Linked DNA regions of Homo sapiens. The protein of the gene in region 4 purifies or fractionates together with the protein of the main gene of each other region. This does not show direct contact. Each region holds a gene or a part of one and is shown on either strand. Other genes may lie near its edges. The genes, in order: DHTKD1, MSRA, FREM2 and BMAL2.

Evidence for each region.
Region 1: the proteins of BMAL2 (region 4) and DHTKD1 purify together in Homo sapiens (affinity purification with mass spectrometry; 2 studies listed by BioGRID and IntAct, with this or other methods). This does not show direct contact.
Region 2: the proteins of BMAL2 (region 4) and MSRA purify together in Homo sapiens (affinity purification with mass spectrometry; 2 studies listed by BioGRID and IntAct, with this or other methods). This does not show direct contact.
Region 3: the proteins of BMAL2 (region 4) and FREM2 purify together in Homo sapiens (affinity purification with mass spectrometry; one large-scale study listed by BioGRID and IntAct). This does not show direct contact.

The regions. Positions count from the first base shown.
Region 1 is NC_000010.11:12,085,954-12,089,453, reverse strand, and holds part of DHTKD1 (2-oxoadipate dehydrogenase complex component E1), read right to left. Parts: intron 1,920-3,500; coding exon 1,725-1,919; intron 469-1,724; coding exon 199-468; intron 1-198. UniProt on the Homo sapiens protein: 2-oxoadipate dehydrogenase (E1a) component of the 2-oxoadipate dehydrogenase complex (OADHC). Participates in the first step, rate limiting for the overall conversion of 2-oxoadipate (alpha-ketoadipate) to glutaryl-CoA and CO(2) catalyzed by the whole OADHC.
Region 2 is NC_000008.11:10,319,792-10,323,291, reverse strand, and holds part of MSRA (mitochondrial peptide methionine sulfoxide reductase isoform a precursor), read right to left. Parts: intron 3,410-3,500; coding exon 3,303-3,409; intron 1-3,302. UniProt on the Homo sapiens protein: Has an important function as a repair enzyme for proteins that have been inactivated by oxidation. Catalyzes the reversible oxidation-reduction of methionine sulfoxide in proteins to methionine.
Region 3 is NC_000013.11:38,871,027-38,877,140, forward strand, and holds part of FREM2 (FRAS1-related extracellular matrix protein 2 precursor), read left to right. Parts: intron 1-1,715; coding exon 1,716-1,908; intron 1,909-3,455; coding exon 3,456-3,560; intron 3,561-4,995; coding exon 4,996-5,123; intron 5,124-5,221; coding exon 5,222-5,356; intron 5,357-6,090; coding exon 6,091-6,114. UniProt on the Homo sapiens protein: Extracellular matrix protein required for maintenance of the integrity of the skin epithelium and for maintenance of renal epithelia. Required for epidermal adhesion. Involved in the development of eyelids and the anterior segment of the eyeballs.
Region 4 is NC_000012.12:27,383,434-27,389,547, reverse strand, and holds part of BMAL2 (basic helix-loop-helix ARNT-like protein 2), read right to left. Parts: intron 4,068-6,114; coding exon 3,988-4,067; intron 2,321-3,987; coding exon 2,228-2,320; intron 370-2,227; coding exon 252-369; intron 1-251. UniProt on the Homo sapiens protein: Transcriptional activator which forms a core component of the circadian clock.

The DNA.
Region 1 (3,500 bases), on a different chromosome or scaffold from region 4:
GCCCCAGGCTAAAGCCAGTTGCCTGAAGACTAAACCTCATGAATCTCCTGTTAGTTTTTAAAACAATCCCAGAATCTTTTTCCAAAAGGTCATCTCAGTTTCATCATGAATGTCTGCCATGTGCTTTCAGCCCTCCCAACCCACACATTCTTCCCAGTTTTCCCCACCTCTGGCCTCAATTTCAGAAGCTCCAAGTACCTGTAAGCAAATGACCCTGTCCCCCGGCTGGGCTGAGTTGTCTGGAGAGTAATCGCCGTCTTGGCGAGACTGCTGCCTGCCGCGAGTTTTGCCCACGGCCACGGGGTTGACGGCCTCCAGGTGCGAGGGATTGGGCAACATTGTCACATGGAGGGGATGGTGCGCCCCAAAGTACAGGTCCACAGAGGAGGTCAGGTGAGACAGGACGTCTCCAGTGGCTGAGAAATTCTCTGGAAATTCACTTAAGCCTCGCATTTTACGGAACATCAGCTATTGTGGATACATTCAAAAGGAAAAAAATGGCATTCATCACAATGGAGTCTAGGGAAGAAGTGCTGAGTTGAAATCATACAACAAAAAAGAAAATTTAAAGCCAGGAGTGGTGGCTTATGCCTGTAATTCCAGCACTTTGGGAGGCTGAGACGGGAAGATCACTTGAGGTCAGGAGTTCGGGACCAGCCTGGCCAACATGGTGAAACCCCGTCTCTATTAAAAATACAAAAAATTAGTTGGGTGTGGTGGCAGGTACCTGTAATCCCAGCTAGTAGAGAGGCTGAGGCATAAGAATCACTTGAACCTGGGAGGCGGAGGTTGCAGTGAGCCGAGATCACGCCACTGCACTCCAGCCTGGGTGACAGAGCGAGATTAGGTCTCAATAAATAAATAAGTAAGTATACATGGAAAACCAATCCAAATACCAACTCTGTCAATTAACTAAACTGTCTAAGCTACCTCCTGGACCAACTGCTCATATGCTTAGTTGCCTTTCCTCTTTTTTTTTTTTAAGACAGGATCTGGCTCTGTCTTCCAGGCTGGAGGGCAGTGGCACAGTCTCAGCTCACTGCAGCCTCCATCTCCTGGACTCAAGAGATCCTCCCATCCCAGCCTCCCAAGTAGCTGGAACCATAGGTGCACCACCTAATTTTCATGTTTGTAGAGACCATGCCACCTAATTTTTATTTTTGTAGGGACAGAGTTTTGCGAGGTTACCCATGGTCTTGAACTCCTGGGCTCAAGCACTCCTCTTGCCTTAGCCTCCCAAAGTGCTGGGATTGCAGGTATGAGCCACCTTGCCCAGCCTTAGTTGACTTCCTAAAATGAATGATCACCATGAGTTTTACTTTTTAAAAATTTATTTATATTCAGGCAGCATCTTGCTTTGTTGCCCAGCCTGGAGTGCAGTGGTGAGATCATAGCTCACTGCAGCCTCAAACTCCTGGGCTCAAGTGATCCTCTGGCCTCAGTCTCCTGAGTAGCTGGGAACACGGGTGCGTGCCACCATGCTTGGCTAACTTATTTTATTTTTGGTAGAGACAAAGTCTCACTTTGTTCCACAGGGTGGTCTCAAACTCCTAGATTCAAGCCATCCTCCTGCCTCATCCTCCCAACAGGCTGGGATTGCAGGTGTGAGCCACAGTGCCCGGCCATCACCATCACCATCATTTATCACCAGAATGAAACCAGCAGTTTTATTCTGTTACAATCAATCATATAGTGCTACTGAGAAACACAGCGAGTAACCTTACCTCTGGAGGGAACTGCAGAAGGCCTGTCAATAAATTCAGCCTCCCTCTATGGGGCATCCCAATAATGACATCAGTGATCCCGCTGTAGGCCGACATTTTCAGCAGCTCGTGGAAAAAGCCCATCATGCTTTCAGCCCCTTCGCCTCCATATCGCTTCACTGTCGAGAACTTGGTGGCCAGAAAGTGGTCAAACTCCTGCAGAACATCATGTCAGACGTGAGCTGCCAGGAGACAGCCAGCTTCTCCAGTGGAAGGCAGATAAGTCTGTGTGTGTTGTGAGATGGCCCCACACTCCCCAAGTGGCCACAGCAATGCCACTTTACTACATATCCCGGAGAGAGACATAACACGGACACAGCGGGATGGTTTTCCTAGGATCCGGGACAGTAGGAGGGGCTGAGGAGAATAACCTGAGCGGCAGAATAACTCACCCCAAGGAAACCCCCTTAGAATGTGTGTTCTTCTGGACTGGAATCCAGGCCTTAGATTTCTGCTGCCTCTTCCCAGTACCCCAGTTTTCACACGGGGCTCTACGGTATGAATCAAGGCTGCAAACTATCCAACTACCCAAACTATTAGGAAGGGGCTTCTTGCCATCTTGACATTCCAGAGTCCTGGTCACAGCCCCAGCAGAGGTTCAGTTCCATTCATTTGTACTGAGCCTGTCTTCCACATGTCATCTTTTGATCATCTCAGATTAAGTTCTGAACTTAAGTATCTTTAGTTCTTAAGAAGTAAGACCAGGCCAGGCATGGTGGTTCACGTCTGTAATCCCAGCACTTCGGGAGGCCAAGGCAGGTGGATCACTTGAGGCCAGGAGTTTGAGACTTGGCCAACATGGTGAAACCCCGTCTCTACTGAAAATCTAAAAATTAGCCGGGTGTGGTGGTGTGCACCTGTAATCCCAGCTACTCAGGAGGCTGAGGCAGGAGAATTGCTTGAGTCCAGGAGGCGGAGGTTGCAGTGAGCCGAGATCGTGCCACTGCACTCCAACCTGGGTGACAGAGCAAGACTGTCTCAAGAACTGCAACTGTACATAGCCCTGAATGGTGACAGTATGTCCTGTTACCAAAAGACTTTTTTTTCTCACATATTAAAAGAAATTTTAGGCCAGTCACGGTGGCTGATGCCTTAATCCCAGCACTTTGGGAGGCCGAGGTGGGCAGATCATGAGGTCAGGAGATCGAGACCATCCTGGCTAACACATTTTAGGCTGGGCGCGGTGGCTCATGCCTGTAATCCCAGCACTTTGGAAGGCTGATGGGAGTGAATCACGAGGTCAGGAGATCGAGACCATCCTGACTAACACAGTGAAACCCCGTTCTACTAAAAATACAAAAAATTAGCCAGGCATCATGGCATGCACCTGTAGTCCCAGCTACTTGGGAGGCTGAGGCAGGAGAATGGCTTGAACCTGGGAGGCAGAGGTTACAGTGAGCTGAGATCATACCACTGCACTCCAGCCTGGGCGACAGGGAGAATCCATCTCAAAAAAAAAAAAAAGAAAAGAAAACAAAAGAAAAATAAATTTTAAATAAATTTTTAAAAAATTTTGTTTAAAAGGCCAGGTGTGGTGGCTCACGCCTGTAATCCTAGCATTTTGGGAGGCCGAGGCGGGTGGATCATGAAGTCAGGAGATCGAGACCATCTTGGCCAACATGATGAAACCCCGTCTCTACTAAAAATACAAAAATTAGCTGGGTGTGGTGGCACGTGCCTGTAATCCCAGCTACTTGGGCGACAGGGCAAGACTCCATCTCAAAAAAATAAAAATAA
Region 2 (3,500 bases), on a different chromosome or scaffold from region 4:
AGTTATAAATACTGCCTTTATAATTAAATACAGTGGGATGAAACAATTGAACCACTTTTTAAGTTCTTGGTTGGGGTTGGTTCCTGTGGTGCCCAGTGTAGTGTCCTGCCTGGTTGGACAGTTCCCCTCCCACCGCTCAAGTGGAGGAATCAGTTCCTCGGGTACTAAGCCCTCTCTTCTGCATTTTTTTTTTTTTTTTTTTGAGATGGAGTCTCACTCTGTTGCCCAGGCTGGAGTTTAGTAATGCAATCTCAGCTCAGTGCAACCTTTGCTTCCTGGGTTCAAGCATTTCTCCTGCCTCAGCCTCCTCAGTAGCTCGGATTACAGGTGCGTGTAACCACGCCTGGCTAATTTTTGTATTTTTAGTAGAGACCGAGTTTCACCATGTTAGTCAGGCTGGTCTCGAAGTCCTGACCTCATGATCCGCCCACTTCAGCCTCCCAAAGTGCTGGGATTAGAGGCGTGAGTCACTGTGCCCTGCCTCTTCTGCTTTTATCTCATTACTTTTCCCAAGTAATCTTATCAGCAACTGGGGTTTCATTTAGCAAATATAAGTTGACAACTCCCAATAATAATAAGGGTTCCTGTTTATGAGGTATTTACCATGTGCTAGGCCCTGTGTTTCACAAGCATTAGCCCAGTTAGCAGTCCTAACAATCCTCCCTGCAAGGCAGAAACAGCCCATGGCTCCTCCAAACAGCCCCTTGGATGCCCATGTCATGGGCACCTTAGACTCTGCACTTTCACAACTTAACTTACCTTCCCCACAAATCTGCCTCTGCTTCTCTGTACACTTGTACAAAAAATCACCAGCCATGACCTGGACCTGGACCTGTCCCTCTTATTGACTCTCCACTTCCAGTGAAGTTCCAAGTTCTGGTCTTTGTACTTCCTAAATATCCCTCCCTCCCACCCATACTTCCACCATCCTAGACAAAGCTTCCATTACTTCTGGCCCGGAATCCTATAATAGCTGCCCAACTCATCTCCCTGCATCCAGTCTTACTTCTCTTTAATTTCATTTATTCTAAGGTCATTGCTCTCTCTTTGAGCATCTGGAAAATGGGGATAATGGGGTCTCCCTCATCCTCATAGGTCTGCTTGAGTCAAATAGAACATATGGCTTTCTAAGTGTCAGGTACTTGATAATAAACTGCACAGATGACATGTGAATTGAGAAAATTTCATGCTAGAGACTGCATGTGTAACCACCACCATAAATGCCCAGGTTAGCCCACCACTGTTACAAAAGCCATTACGAAAAAGGGATAAGAGAAAGAATATATAGGTAAAAGGTTTTTAGAATGGAAATACAAGTATACTTAAATTACTCTAAAACTTAGCAGCTTCAAAGTATATACATTTATTATCTCACAGCTTCTGTGGCACAGCTTGGCTGTGTGCCTCTGGCTTGAAGTCCTTCATGACGCTGTAATCAAACTGTCAGGCAGGGCTGCAGTCTCATCTGAAGGCTTGACTGGGGTTGAGGGGATTCGAAGCTCACTCACATAGTTCTTGGCAGGCTTTTGTCCTTGTCATGTAAGCCTCTGCACAGGGCTGCTTCATGACGTGGCAACTGGCTTCCCCTACCATCTCTCACGCGGTAACAGAGAGTTTTCACAATACGAGCCACAATCTTTTAATGACCTAGTCTCAGAGTGCTCCCATCACTGCTGTCATTCATTAGAAGTGAGTTGCTAAATGCAGCCCATATTCAAGGAGATGAATTACATATGGGCAGAGAGCACTGGGGGCCATCCCACAGGCTGCCTACCATGACCAGCCAAGCAGACATCACCCTGGGAGGGAGGTGGGAGGGGCCAAGGAAGGAATGGGCTCTGTCAGCGCCTCCCTCAGGCCTCTCCGCTCATCATAGTCGAACTGACCTTGAGTCACCCGTCCTTCTACTTGCTCACCAGTGGACACTCTAGTTACAGCCTCCTCGTCTCTGCACTCATTCCTGGGGGCTGTTGCATACCTGACTTTTTACAAAATTCTAACATAGATTAGCTTTATAGTAGCTTCTAGCTCTACTGTCAAATGCAAATCCACATCAGAAAATATAATGATAAATAAAATACAAGTACTATCACAAAGTTCTAAAAACTAAAGCAAGTCAACTTGTTTTTAAAACAACTAAATCTCTATTGGAGGATTTTAAAAAAGGGTACACAACTCTGAAAATAATTATTTTGTGATATCATGTATATATTTCCGAGAACTACTTTTATCATAATTCAATTTACTGTTATGAGAAAGTGTTATGGGTTGAATCGTGTCTCCCTCCAAAAGATATGTTGGAGTCCTAAAACCTCGGAATGTGACCTTCCTTGGAGAACGGGTCTTTACAGAGGTAATTAAGTTAAACGAGGTCATGAGGGTTAGCACTAAGCCAATATGACTAGAGACTGTTTAAAAACAAGAAGCTTGGACAAAGAAACACACGCACATAAAACTAGGCTGATGTGAATATAAACATGGAGAAGACAGCCATCTAGAAGCCAAGGAGAGAGGCCTGGAACAGATCCTTCCCTTCCCTCACAGCACTCAGAAGGAACCAGCCCTGCCGACACCTTGATCTTGGACTTCCAGCCTCCAGAATTGTGAGAAAATAAATATCTGCTGTTTAAACTAACCAGGCTGTGACTGTTTGTTACAATAGCCCTGTAAAACTAATACAGAGGGAAGAAAAAAAGAGAGAGTTTCAGACAGAGACAGAAATAAAGAGAGAAGGAAAAAGACTTATTTTAACAGGCTGTGTCTTCATCTAGATGAGTGATTCAAAGGCAAACACATAAGGGCCTACTCTTTATTTTTTTACATTGAGACAGGGTCTTGCTCTGTCACCCAGGCTGAAGTGCAGTGGTGCAATCACAGGTCACTGCAGCCTTGACCTCCCAGGTTCAAACGATACTCCCACCTCACCCTCCCAGGTAGCTGGGACTGTAGGTGCAGGCCACCATGCCTGGCTTATTTTTGTATTTTTTGTAGAGATGGGGTTTCTTCATGTTGCCCAGGCTGGTCTCGAACTCCTGGCCTCAAGTATCCTTCTGCTTCGGCCCCCCAAAGTACTGGGATTACAGGCATGAGCCACTGGCCCTGGCCCAGGCCTACTCTTAAAACCTCATTTAGCACACGTATTAGACACAATGGCTCCACTCCTAGAGGCTGACAGAAATTTCTAAGAGATGTGCAAATAAAACACAATTCCAGTTGAAAAGCAGCAGACTGCCCTCTAAAATCAGAACCTGGCCCTAGTCATGGTGGCCTAAGCCAGGGGCTAGGAGCCCAGCAATCCCTACCTTTTGGTAGTTCTCTTTGGAGCTCAGGGCTGCCTCCATTTGCTTGGCAGAGGTCGGGTAGATGGCCGAGCGGTACTGAGTGCCATGGTCGTTCCCCTGGCGCATACCTAGGAAAGCAGAAAACAGGGAGGGTTACCCGGTCACTAGGCGACAGTGCCAGTCTCAAACTGGGCACAATGCTGAGACATTTTGACACTT
Region 3 (6,114 bases), on a different chromosome or scaffold from region 4:
CTGCACTTCAAAATCAATTGCTCAATGAGGTAATAACAGCCGCCCATAGAAACTACTGTCTCAAAGGACTTTTAATGCAAAGCACCTCTCCTGCTGGCCAGGCTAGCAGGTAAGAGGGAATGCTAACTACTATACTATACAGCTAAGAATGAAATAACTGGTTTGGTTGATGGTTCTTTTCTATATATTTTTATTAGGGATTCAGGTCATCATTTTTGTGACATGAGCAGTTTACTTTTAACTTCATAAGAATGTTCTAAATTATAGTTCTCATGATTTAAATTATTTGCTAACTCATGCCTGTGATTCTTGTTGTGAGCTGTGTGGAAGGAGAACTAGACCATAATCAGACAGCCTGACTCAAACTTCTATGGAGTGTGATCTGACCTAAGTCCTTTCCTCTTGTGTAGAAGAGGCTAGTTGTATTTGTCCTACTATTGTGCAGAGCTATTTTGAGAATGAAATATGATAGCCTTTGTTAGATGACCTTAGGACTGCCTTCATCTTTGTTTGGAATACGATGAAGTAAGACAGAATAGAAAAAAAACATGGGCCAAAAGCTGAGTTCTGATCTTGTCCGAGCCATTCAGGAGGTTTAGAGAATACTGTGGGACATTTACCTTTTTCCTTTGAGTCTTAATTTTATCTTTGTCTCTTTCTATCCGTCATCCATTGACCATCCAACTATCCATCCATACATGCAAAATAATTATGGTGGAGAGTGAAAATATTAAATAGTGTTTATTCAGAAACTAGTACAGTTTCTGAAATATGGTAAGTACTCAATATATAAATATTAGTTTATCCTCCACTATTCCCAACCCATCTGCTAAACACCAGAAGGAGGAAAGTATAAAATTCAAGGCAAGACACTTCATTTCAACTAATTATTCTTGAGATATTATAAATGTTATATGTTATTAGTAAATATATTTGCTTCCAGATCTATGTTTCATATTCCCTTAATAAAAAAGTAGCTCATAGCAGCATTTTTTATAATAGCCAAAAACTGGAAACAACCCAAATGGCCATGAAGTGATAAATAGATAAATGAAATGTAATATGTGCATACAATGGGCTGCAATTCATTAACAGGGGAATTAAGTATTGAAACGTGCTCAAACATGGATGCACCTTGAAAACATTATGCTAAATGAAAGAAATCTATCACAAAAAAACACATTTTGTATGATTCCATTTATATGAAATGTCCAGGATAGACAAATACATAAAGACCTAGTGGTTTCCAGGGACTGACGGGGAGGAGGGATTGGGGGTGACTGCTAATAAGTACAGGCTTCCTTTTGGAGGTGATGAAAATCTTCTAAAATTGATTGTGTTGGTTGCACAGCTCCTTAAATATACTAAGAACCATTGAACTGTTTACTTTAAATAGGTGAATTACATGGTATGTAAACTATCTTCATAAAACTGCTCTAAAGAGGATTTTGTAAGTATAGTATGCTCAAAATAATGCACTGTCTTAAGGATTTCTGGTACATATCCTTTGTTGCCAATGAAGGTAATTAGTAACAACTATTTAATCGATCCAAAATTAAGTGAGGGGAAAATAGTGTTATAAAATGCTGTCATTTCCTCTTCTCAATGATTACTCAAAATCTTCAGTTAAGCGAAAAGAGAAAATGGCTTGTACAAAATTAGGCCCACTTAGTTAACACTGAGTCATGTTGATTGATGTAATTTTGTTGTTTTAGGTCCTAAACCTAGTGCAGTCCTATGTGACCCTTCGAGTCCCTCTGTATGTTTCCTACGTGTTCCATTCCCCCGTGGGGGTAGGAGGCTGGCAGCATTTTGACTTGAAGTCAGAGCTTCGTCTAACTTTTGTGTACGACACCGCCATCTTGTGGAATGATGGAATTGGCAGCCCCCCAGAGGCTGAACTTCAAGGTGAGTTCAGAAGACTTGGAAAATTCTATAGTTTTGTAACCTATTTAAACTATTTAAGACGATTTTTTTTTGCCATTGCTAAAAGTAGTACTAGCAAATTTCAGTATATTTTCATTTTCTATCTATAATAAGATAATTTCACCTTTTTCATCAAAAAACTCTTTAAACCATATTAGGGCTTTAAATTTTGTGCAATATGTGATTATTAAATATGACTTTATATATTTCATGGATATTTTATCCTTGCGATCTATTTTAGGTGATTAATTATTTATGTGTTACATAACACAACATATATATTTTTCTGAATTCTAGAAAATGGATAGAGGAAGCTCCAACGAAAGCAAGAAATGACCAAGGGAAAAAGTTACACATTTTTATTTCTGAAAAAAAGAGGTGCATTTAAATTAAATACAAATTATGGCCTGAATTCTAGTCATGACTCTACAACTAACTAGCTGTGAGATCTCAAGCATATTGCTTAACCTTTCTGGGACTTAACTTTTTCTGAATGATAGACACAACTTCTAATATCTCTTTCTGATGTAAAATTCTATTACTCTGGGGTACTTTAGTTGAATGTCTGCGAACTCGGATTGTGAATGCCACTAGTTCGAGTTCGCGAGCATTTGCAAAACTTGGTTTCAATCTCCATGTTAGACTCATAGTTCAAAGTCCACAAGCATCAATCTAATCCATTAGTAGGACGAGTGCTTTTTCTTTTTCAGACATGTATTACTGTTCCGATTCCACAAACATCCATAGTGTCATGCCAGTACTGCATTTTACTAGCCAGCAGGAAAACAGAGTTAATAGTGCACCTCAAATGTAAATCTACTCTCTTAAGTGGATTAAAACCTATTTATGCTCTGTTCATTTTGTTGTTGTCTTTTTTTCTCCATGTTTCATTTTGAATAGTTTCTATTTTAGAGCTATGTGACAGGTAATATGATAACCCTGAGTTATGATTCCAAATTATTTCAAATGTTTTAAGTCCGTGTCTTGTTTTAGAAGATGTATATTTAAGTTAATCTTAATGAGGATTTTTCTGTGGTTCCCAACCTCCACATAGGATCTCTTGTTTCCATCTGATTTCTGGAGCCAAATTTTATCAAACTGCTAAATTTCTTGGGAAAGCTTCAGAGGTTTCTTTAAGTCTATAAAATTAGGAATAATTCTGGATAACTCAAACCTATTTCTATTTACATGTCCGAATCTCCATCATTTTGACAATTTTGTCATGCCTCTCAATTTACAGCTTCATTTTTATAAACTCAGATTTTAAAAAAACTTGGTCTATTGTAAGTAATCTGTGTATTTCATAGTGACTTCACTCATGTTACTTAATAATTCATTTTGGCTCCCTTTTCTGCTTAGAAAAGAAAATGAAGATACTTCTGCCTCTGTTATTCAGAATTCTTCTGATAATACCCTTTGCCCAGAATGTTTAAAGACAAGTCAAACCTGAATTAATTTTTGGAAGGAATCTGTACATAAGGGGTCTCTGGCTACATATATTTTCATTCTTGGTACTCTCCCCATTATAGGTTCTCTCTATCCAACCAGCATGCGCATCGGTGATGAGGGGCGCTTGGCCGTGCACTTCAAGACAGAGGCTCAGTTCCATGGCTTATTTGTGCTGTCACATCCCGGTAAGCCCCGTTATCTTTTAACAACCACTCCTCACACAAAAAGGAGGTAGATTTTCCATCTTCACACATTTCAGCGTGCTTCTCTGTTACCACTGAAGCCCTTAATCTCAAATGAATTGTACATGTGGGATTATCTCCATGAGAGCTTGATAATTGTTCAGCTTCACCTCATAATCCACAAAATTATCATTATGCAGACTTTCAGAGAAAATGCAAAATAATTAGAGTAAAATTAAAAGGAAACCCTATTGAGTTCATTTTAAGTAAAGTTTTCCTTAAAGAGCATAGGAATAATCATTTCTTTCTCTGCTTTGCTTCCATTGTACAAATCGAATTGCAGATGATTCATTCAGCAAGCACTTCTCTTTTCACAGCTTTTTGCTAGGTACTGTGAGAAACCCTTTTAATAGGGTCAGAGGAGGTACTTCACTTTCATATTTAAGTTTTGGACATGTTAATTATGTTTAATAAGTATTGGCTATGCAATTTTACTAACTGTGATTCGCTGTGCTTTGAATATCAACAAGGCAGCAGTCGATAAAATCCCACGTCTAACTTCATTTGTTTTTTGTTTTTTTTTAACAAGGACATTTCACTAGAAAGAGCTTATTTTTTATTTGACTCTCCATATTACCAGTTTAGTAACATGGAGAGTCAAATAAAAAATAAGCCATTTTTCTGCCAGCTTATATTAGATTGGGAAAGGGAAAATAGTTCACTCAACATCTTTATAGCTTTTCTTTTTCTGGACTTGAACTCTAACAAAAGAGAATAGGGCTGAATAATTAGGAAGAGAAAGAGGCTTCATTGTATTTTTATGGAACTGAGCTACAAGAAAGAAAGAACCCAAAAAAATCATTTTGCTTTATTGTATTTGACAGTTCTGGAAAATGAGGATTTTCTGGTCTATACAGTTTTCTTCTACATGCCTACCTTTCTAATAAACTGAATCTTTGTGTAGCCATGATTGCAGGCAATCTAACTAAAATCAGACTCCATTCATAAATTGGGTTTGCCCAGCTGTGTGGATACTAATAGACTATTTTAAGTTCAGCTCGTAACTTCAGTGCACAATAAATGCATTCACATCACCCTTTATTGTGCTGCTGTGACTCCCCAGAAAGTAGCTCTGAACAATTTGAGCATTTCTGTACAATTATCTTTTGACAAAACTATAGAGCAGAAACAGTACTGAAGTAGGAATCAGAAAGTCACATCCTAGCTGTGTGATCTTTGGAAAGTCACACAGTCACTCACAGCCCAGTTTCTTCATCTGCCAGAGGAGGATAATTATACTAACCATGACTGCTTTGCAGCCTTCTTATAAAAACAGAAGCAAATAATGTATGATCATTTATTTTGAAAACTCTAAACTGTTATGCACTCTTTTAATTGAACCACTATATCATTATTATAATTACTGGCACTTTCCTAGCATCCTTTACAAGCTCAGTGATCATGTCAGCTGATCATCCAGGCCTGACATTTTCCCTCCGCCTCATAAGGAGTGAACCAACCTATAACCAGCCAGTACAGCAGTGGAGCTTTGTCTCTGACTTTGCCGTAAGTGACTAAGACTCTTAATTAATTTTCTTCTGCTGCTGCCATCTGATTACACCTCAGATTTTTAAATGTAATATATCAATATCTTCTCCTCAAAGGTACGTGACTACTCAGGGACCTATACTGTGAAGCTGGTGCCATGCACTGCCCCATCACATCAGGAATACCGCCTGCCAGTCACCTGCAACCCCAGAGAACCTGTCACCTTTGACCTTGACATCCGATTCCAACAGGTGTGGCTTATAGAATTACTATCTTATGACTTGCAGAATCCCACTTTGTTTTTCATTTATTAGTAAAAAAAAAAAAAATCCACACGTGAATGACTTTAATTCTTGCATGCTGAAAAGAAAAGAAATCAGACAGTTAAGGAAGCTAGGGATAAAAGAATGAGGAGAGATTTGCCCTTTATCTGTTGTTAGTACAGGATGTAAAATTCAGAGTTTAAATGTATGCAATGGTTATTTTTTTCTTATCTGATCTTATCTTGTGTCCTCCTGAAGTTTGCTGTCTTGGAGATTTGAGAATTTTCCCCGCACTTCTGCATTTCTTTTCTTGTTCTTCTCTAAAGAGAATGAAATCCTGTAGCTCAAACCACCTCAAAGTACCTAATTGCCATTATGTATTATAAAAAATGTGATGGCATCTTTTTTTCAAGAATTTTTACTGTTGGCCTTCTACTGACAATGATATTTACAAGTCCTTTATATACCCCAATAAACCAGTGGAAATGAGCTCAAGCAATGCTGTTTAGTCCCATTCAAAAAATGACTTGATCCCACCAGTTTTGCCTTCTCAAGGACAAAAGCAATGTTACAACTCTCTGAGTTAGCTTGGTAGGGTGTGAAAATTGCGATGCAGTGTTTAGTGTTCTACAGTGTACGGTGAATGTATGTATCTGTGAACAGTATGTTTGTGCACCATCAGAACCACTGATGCATAAAAGAACTTTTACCTTTGGTTTTAGGTCAGTGATCCAGTGGCTGCTGAG
Region 4 (6,114 bases):
TAGCAAATATGAAGCACTCATATTTTCCCCAAAGCATCTTCATATCAATGAATTTGTGTTTGTATATGTCTGTATGAATATAGGAATTTTCTATATAGCTATATATATTTATTAAGTATGATGTAAAGTTTACAAAACAATTCTCTCTTGATAAAAGCTTAGTTAGCTGTTTTAAAAACACTGTGTAGCTAAACTTTTAGGTGATCATTACATTTACATAAAATAATAAGCATGCGGAAATGGACACTTACTTTTGGCATCTATTAGCTTTTCTCTTGGTGAAATATCAAAAGAAGAAAGTTGTTCCTTTACTTTGGCAACATCTTTTGGATGTAAGAAGTCAAATAAGCTTTGTCCAGTCAAACTAGCCTATTCATAAGGTAGACATTCATTTAAAATCAGTACCATGCTTTTTCTACATTTCTTGATGCATACAATAAATGTTCTTTTTTGATTTTTGATTGATTTTTCTCAAGCTCAAAGATATGTCCACGACACTGTGTGACATGAACTTAATGTTCAAAGCAGGGTGATACTTGTAGACAGAAAAAAATACATGCGTATAGAACCATCCCTGGATATACACAAACCATATACAAACACCAATTGCTAGTATTCTGCTAAATCTTGTAACTCTTGTTAACATGTTACTTGTAAATGATTGTGATTTACTTTGAACTTTTTTTGTCCTTGTTAAAAAAAAGAGATTACATCATAGTATAATATAGAAATCACAGAATATCTGTGACTTTATCAGATATTTACCATACAGTTTAAAAAATTACCATACTATTGATAGGTAAAATCCAACCCAGAATACCTCTCACTTCCCATTCCACCACTCCCAAAAGGCACAGCATCCCCAGGTCTATGCCTTTGCTGATACAGTCCCACCCCTCAGAATTCATCACCCCTTCCCTATCCCTTGGCCACTCCAGCCAAATTGCCTTTGACTCCCTAGACTTCCGGGACTCCCTTCTCCCAGGTTGAAATGTTTCCTCCCCTTCTCTACACCTTCCTTCTGACAAGCCTGGCAGACATCCTACTTCATGTGTGACGCCTTCCTGACCCACAGTGGCCACCCCTCTTCTGAATTCCTGTATTACCCAAGCAAACATTCCTATAGACAACAGGACTAACGGACCAGCCGATATAAGCAGGCTGAATTGTTTGGCGGTTATATGTTTCATTCTAAAAAAAACTGTGTGGTTAATATAAGTCTATATCCAGAACTCTCTAGGGCAGACCAAGTTTCTGAATCTGAAAAGCTGAGGACTAAATCCTGAATCATGGGAATCCCTACATGCCCCTGAGCAGCCAGTAAGTCTCTTAATAGCCTCTTCTATGCAAAGTCAGTGCCCAGTAGGACTGGATTCCATGTCACTAACTTGAAACTTAAGTGGTACCCTAAACTGTCAGTTACCTGTGTGTGTGTGTGTGTGTGCGTGCATGTGTGTGTGCATGTGTGGGTGTGTTTTCCATCTCCAGTTAGAACGTGGAATCATGAGGTTTGTGCCCCCAGCTATAACCAGCTGAAGGTTTCATCGGTTTTCAATCCTCCTGTACACAGGCTCATAATATTCCCTTATTTCTGTTATTTAACTCATTATCTCTGAACACCCTTATAATCTAATGTGAGTTATTAAAAAACAGTGCTGCAGTCTATCGGATTTCTAGTGCTAGTTTATTCACTTACTTGGGTTAGTTTCAATGCTATAATTTTTGAGTAGCTAGTTTCCATGAAATGGTGTTCAGTAATAAGGAGGTGAAGTACTAAACTAGTTAAATGAAAGATGTATTTCAGAGAGTGTTGCCAGAGATTAGATCAAAGGCTGTCATGCAATGATTATAACTTAATAATTAACCATAAAGTGTCTCTTGGAGGGAACAGAGAAGGGTGACTAACACTTTTCAGACACTCTTAAATATGACACCTCATTTAGTCTTTACATCTTGAGAGACAGGTATAATCATTTTGACTTTTTACATAGGAAGAAGCTGAGGCTCAGTAAAATTAAGTAACTTGCTGAAGGTCAGGAAGGGAACGCAATCAGTCATAAAGATCCTTACTCTTTCCACACAGCTTTCCATCTCTCTTGGAGTTCTAACTTAGCAGAATCTAATCCCATATCCCAGTGGGGAGAAGGTGTTCAGAAAAAGAGCTTAAAAATATGTGTTTGTTCAAAAAATTAAACATTGTATGGAAAATATCCTCATTTTTGGATACCTGATCATAATTAAGTATTTTGGAGACTGACTTAGAAACGAAGAGAATTTTTCCTCTTTCACATCCAACCACAAATAAGAAGCCTTCTGCAGTCTAGGATTTAAAAAAAAAGTGAATATTTTAAAATATTGTCTGTCTCTTATACACACGCACACACACACACACATTCAGATTCTGAGGAAATTACTGTGGCAATAAAACTAACAGAGTAGTCATGGAGCTAGTAAAATTAATTTTAAGAAATGTTCTTAAGATGCAAACAGATTTATAAAGAGTGTCAAGTTGAAATCCTATTCTAAATTAATGTTTTGGACATGAAAAGTTTGGCTGCAGAATATTTAGTTGAGACATTTCTTAAAAACTAAAATTAGGCCAGGTGCTGTATATGAGCCTAAATACAGCACTAAATGAGCCTATATCCCAGCACTTTGGGAGGCCGAGGCAGGTGGATCTCTTGAGCTCATGAGTTTGAGACCAGCCTGGGCAACACTGGCGAAACCCTGTCTTGACAAAAAATACAAAAATTGGCCGGGCATGGTGGTGCACGCCTCTAGTCCCAGCTACTGAGGAGGCTGAGACGGGAGGATGGCTTGAGCCCGGGAGGTGGAGGGTGCAGTGAGCCGAGATCGCACCACTGCATTCCAGCCTAGGCAACAGAGCCAGACCTTGTCTCAAAAAATAACAATAAAATAAAATTACCTTTACCAAATTCTACTACACTGCATGCAGAACAACAATTGCCTGTGGATGTGTTGAGGTAGAAGGACAGGGCAGAATGAGGACAGGGAAGCAATGAAGACATTATACTGTACACCTTGTTATAGTTTTTGAATAATAAAAAGGCATCACTCATTCTAAACTAATGTGTCAGCTACTCTCATAAGGTCTACCCAGCAAATCCCATGAAGCAGCCTGCATGGAAGCGGGTACATATGGCACATAGGAAGAGTCTGGCACTCTTGCTGGGCATGCTCTGCAGGGCAGAAGCAGGGTTCCATGAAGGTACGACTGACGAGCATGTACAGATTGGTGAGAAAGCTTCGAAAGCAAATCGTACATTTTGCCACCTTCAAAAATCCTTTTTATCCACACAATATCCTTTCTATCCCTGCCAGAAATGCTATATTTAAATTCAGCTGTTCAAATAAAAGAGTGGCTTTTTTTAATTAAAGGAAAAATGGACAAAAATGTGTATGAAGAATCCTTCTATTTAATTTGACTATGGCTTAAAACCTAGTAGTCACACAGCACATGACCAAGACATTTATCACCTCCGAGGGCATGAGAAGCAAATCACATGATCACAGTTTCCCCTCTAGACCGGTGAATCTGAAAAGCCATGCACAGGAATGATGAGGACGGAAATGTCAAAGCACTAACAACTCTAAGTAAGCAGTGACTGGCCTCCGAGAAGAACAGGATCCTGAGGGAACAGGATGCCAGGCAGACGGCTTTGAAGGAGGTGGTGATCATGGGGGAGTAGATCCTATGTGTGAGAGATGGGTAGTATAAAATGCTTAGCACTGAATACAAGCTTTGCTCCATAGTGTGGAAAGTGCCTATCCTCTGTCTCTACTTTCATTAACACAAACTAGTAATGCATGGCTACTTCTCTATTTTAAACTTCTATATTAAAGGAAATACGGTGTAATATGGAGTCCCATATGTTTAGAACAGGAAGCAAATGGAAGAAAATCTGCCTCCTATTCAAACAGCAATGAAAGCACATACACAACTTAGACAAATATATCTTTAGTTACCTTAAGGATTAAATGTCTGAGCTCATTATCCTGAAGAAATGATGGTCTATAATTACTTCCCACATAAGAATTTGTCAAGCCTAAAAAGAAAGGCATCAAGAGTTATTGGAAATATAGTAGAGAGGGCAAAATGCTTAATGAACATTAGCAATGCTGCTGCTGCTGGTATTTGCTCTTTGGCACATTCTAAGACATTTTCTGTAATCATTTTTTTTTTCATTTTCATTTAATTTAATTATTTATTTTTGAGACAGAGTCTTACTCTGTTGCCCAGGCTGGAGTGCGGTCGCGCAATCTCAGCTCACTGCAACCTCCACCTCCTGAGTTCAAGTGATTCTCGTGCCTCAGCCTCCTGAATAGCTGGGATTATAGGCGCATGCCACCACGCCCAGCTAATTTTTATATTTTTATTAGAGACAAGTTTTCACTATGTTGGCCAGGCTGGTCTTGAACTCCTGGCCTCAAGCAATCCACTCACCTCAGCCTCCCAAAGTGCTGGGATTACAGGAGTGAGCCACTACGCCCAGCTAATCATTTTCTTTCTTCATTATCACTTGATTAAAATTTCTTTCTTTTAGATTGTGAATTCTTGGAACTACTTATTCCTTTATATTCAAATATGCACATTAAGAGCTATATATAAAAACATTATAATAAAATGTACATGAAATAAAATTCAAGGATTGATATGCAGTAGTCCCCCGTTAGCTGTGGTTTCAGTTACCTGTGGTCCACCATGGCCTGCAAACAGGTGAGCACAATACAATAAGATATTTTGAGAGAGCCAAAGACAGAACATATAACATTTTTACAGTATATTGCTATAATTATCCTAGTTTATTATTGATGTTAATCTCTTAATATGCCTGATTTATAAGTTAAACTTTATCATAGGTATATGTGCATAGGAAAAAAGTACTATGCCTAGGGTTCAGCACTACCCACGGTTTCAGGCATCCACCAGGGTCTTGGAATGTATGCCCCTATGGATAAGGGGGGACCACTACAGTTATTTAGATAATGTCTTAGCTAATTAAAATTTATCATATGAGTTACCTTGAATGGGGGTATTCTGGAATTCTAAACAAATGTTACGGATTCATGAGATTTTCCAGTAAGAAAATCCTTTAATGGCAATATAGAGACCTCTATTCTGATAATACACAGATTATTTTAAAAATGTATAAAATATAAATGAAATAATTAATTTTCAGCCCTTAGCACTGAGTTATATTAAAATGAAAGTCTCTAAAGCAGCTGAAGAGCTTGCAAAATGATGAGGAATTATCAGGCCAAAACCAAGGGAAATGTTTGACCTGGGAGGAGTAAGGGAATCCACCAACCCAGATTCGCAAAGCCCTTCATGGCCACAAGGGGGCGTATGACACAGACGACAAAGCCAAGCAAGCCATCCCCAGGGCAAGGATGATTCAGAAGTAAGTCAATTTTCCCTTCCTTATATTCCCCAACCTTCTTGACTCCTATCCCTTCTTCCTGGGTACTGTAAGAGAAGTTGCTTTTGCAGGGGAAAGGTGGGGTAACATCCTTAGACATTTTAACCACACATTGGCCCTCGGACGGATCTGTGGCCCAAACTCACCAATGAACTAAGTGGTGGTGGTGGTGGCAAAGTAAGTGGGCAGGGCAGAAAGACAAAATGCCTCATGCTATGATTCAGTACAGTTTTCTCAGACTCGTAGCACTCTTAAGAGCCTGGCATAGGGAAAAGAAAATCTCTTCTGTTGGAATCTATCTTCATCCTAGGGCTCAGGGAATTCTCCCAATGACTTCTTGCTAATATTACTACACAGCAGCTTGGGAGGGAGCTGAGGAAGGAATGAAGAACGCAGACTCTGAGTGCTAGGTCAGGGAACAGCAGTAAACTGATTTTGAGCAAGATAATGACATTTCAGGTCTGGCCTGCAGCAAGGTTGGCAGAGCATACCAGGCAGAAGTGGGCTGGGAAACCCCGTCGGTGTACATCAGCCATCACAGGCGAGCCCTGACTCGGTGAGTGAGTGGGGATGTGCTCGAGAGAAAATGAGGGCAGTGAGAGCAGCACTGAGGCATGGTAGAGGCTGGCCAGTAAATGCATGCCATGGTGTTCTGCACACTTGTCCACACATT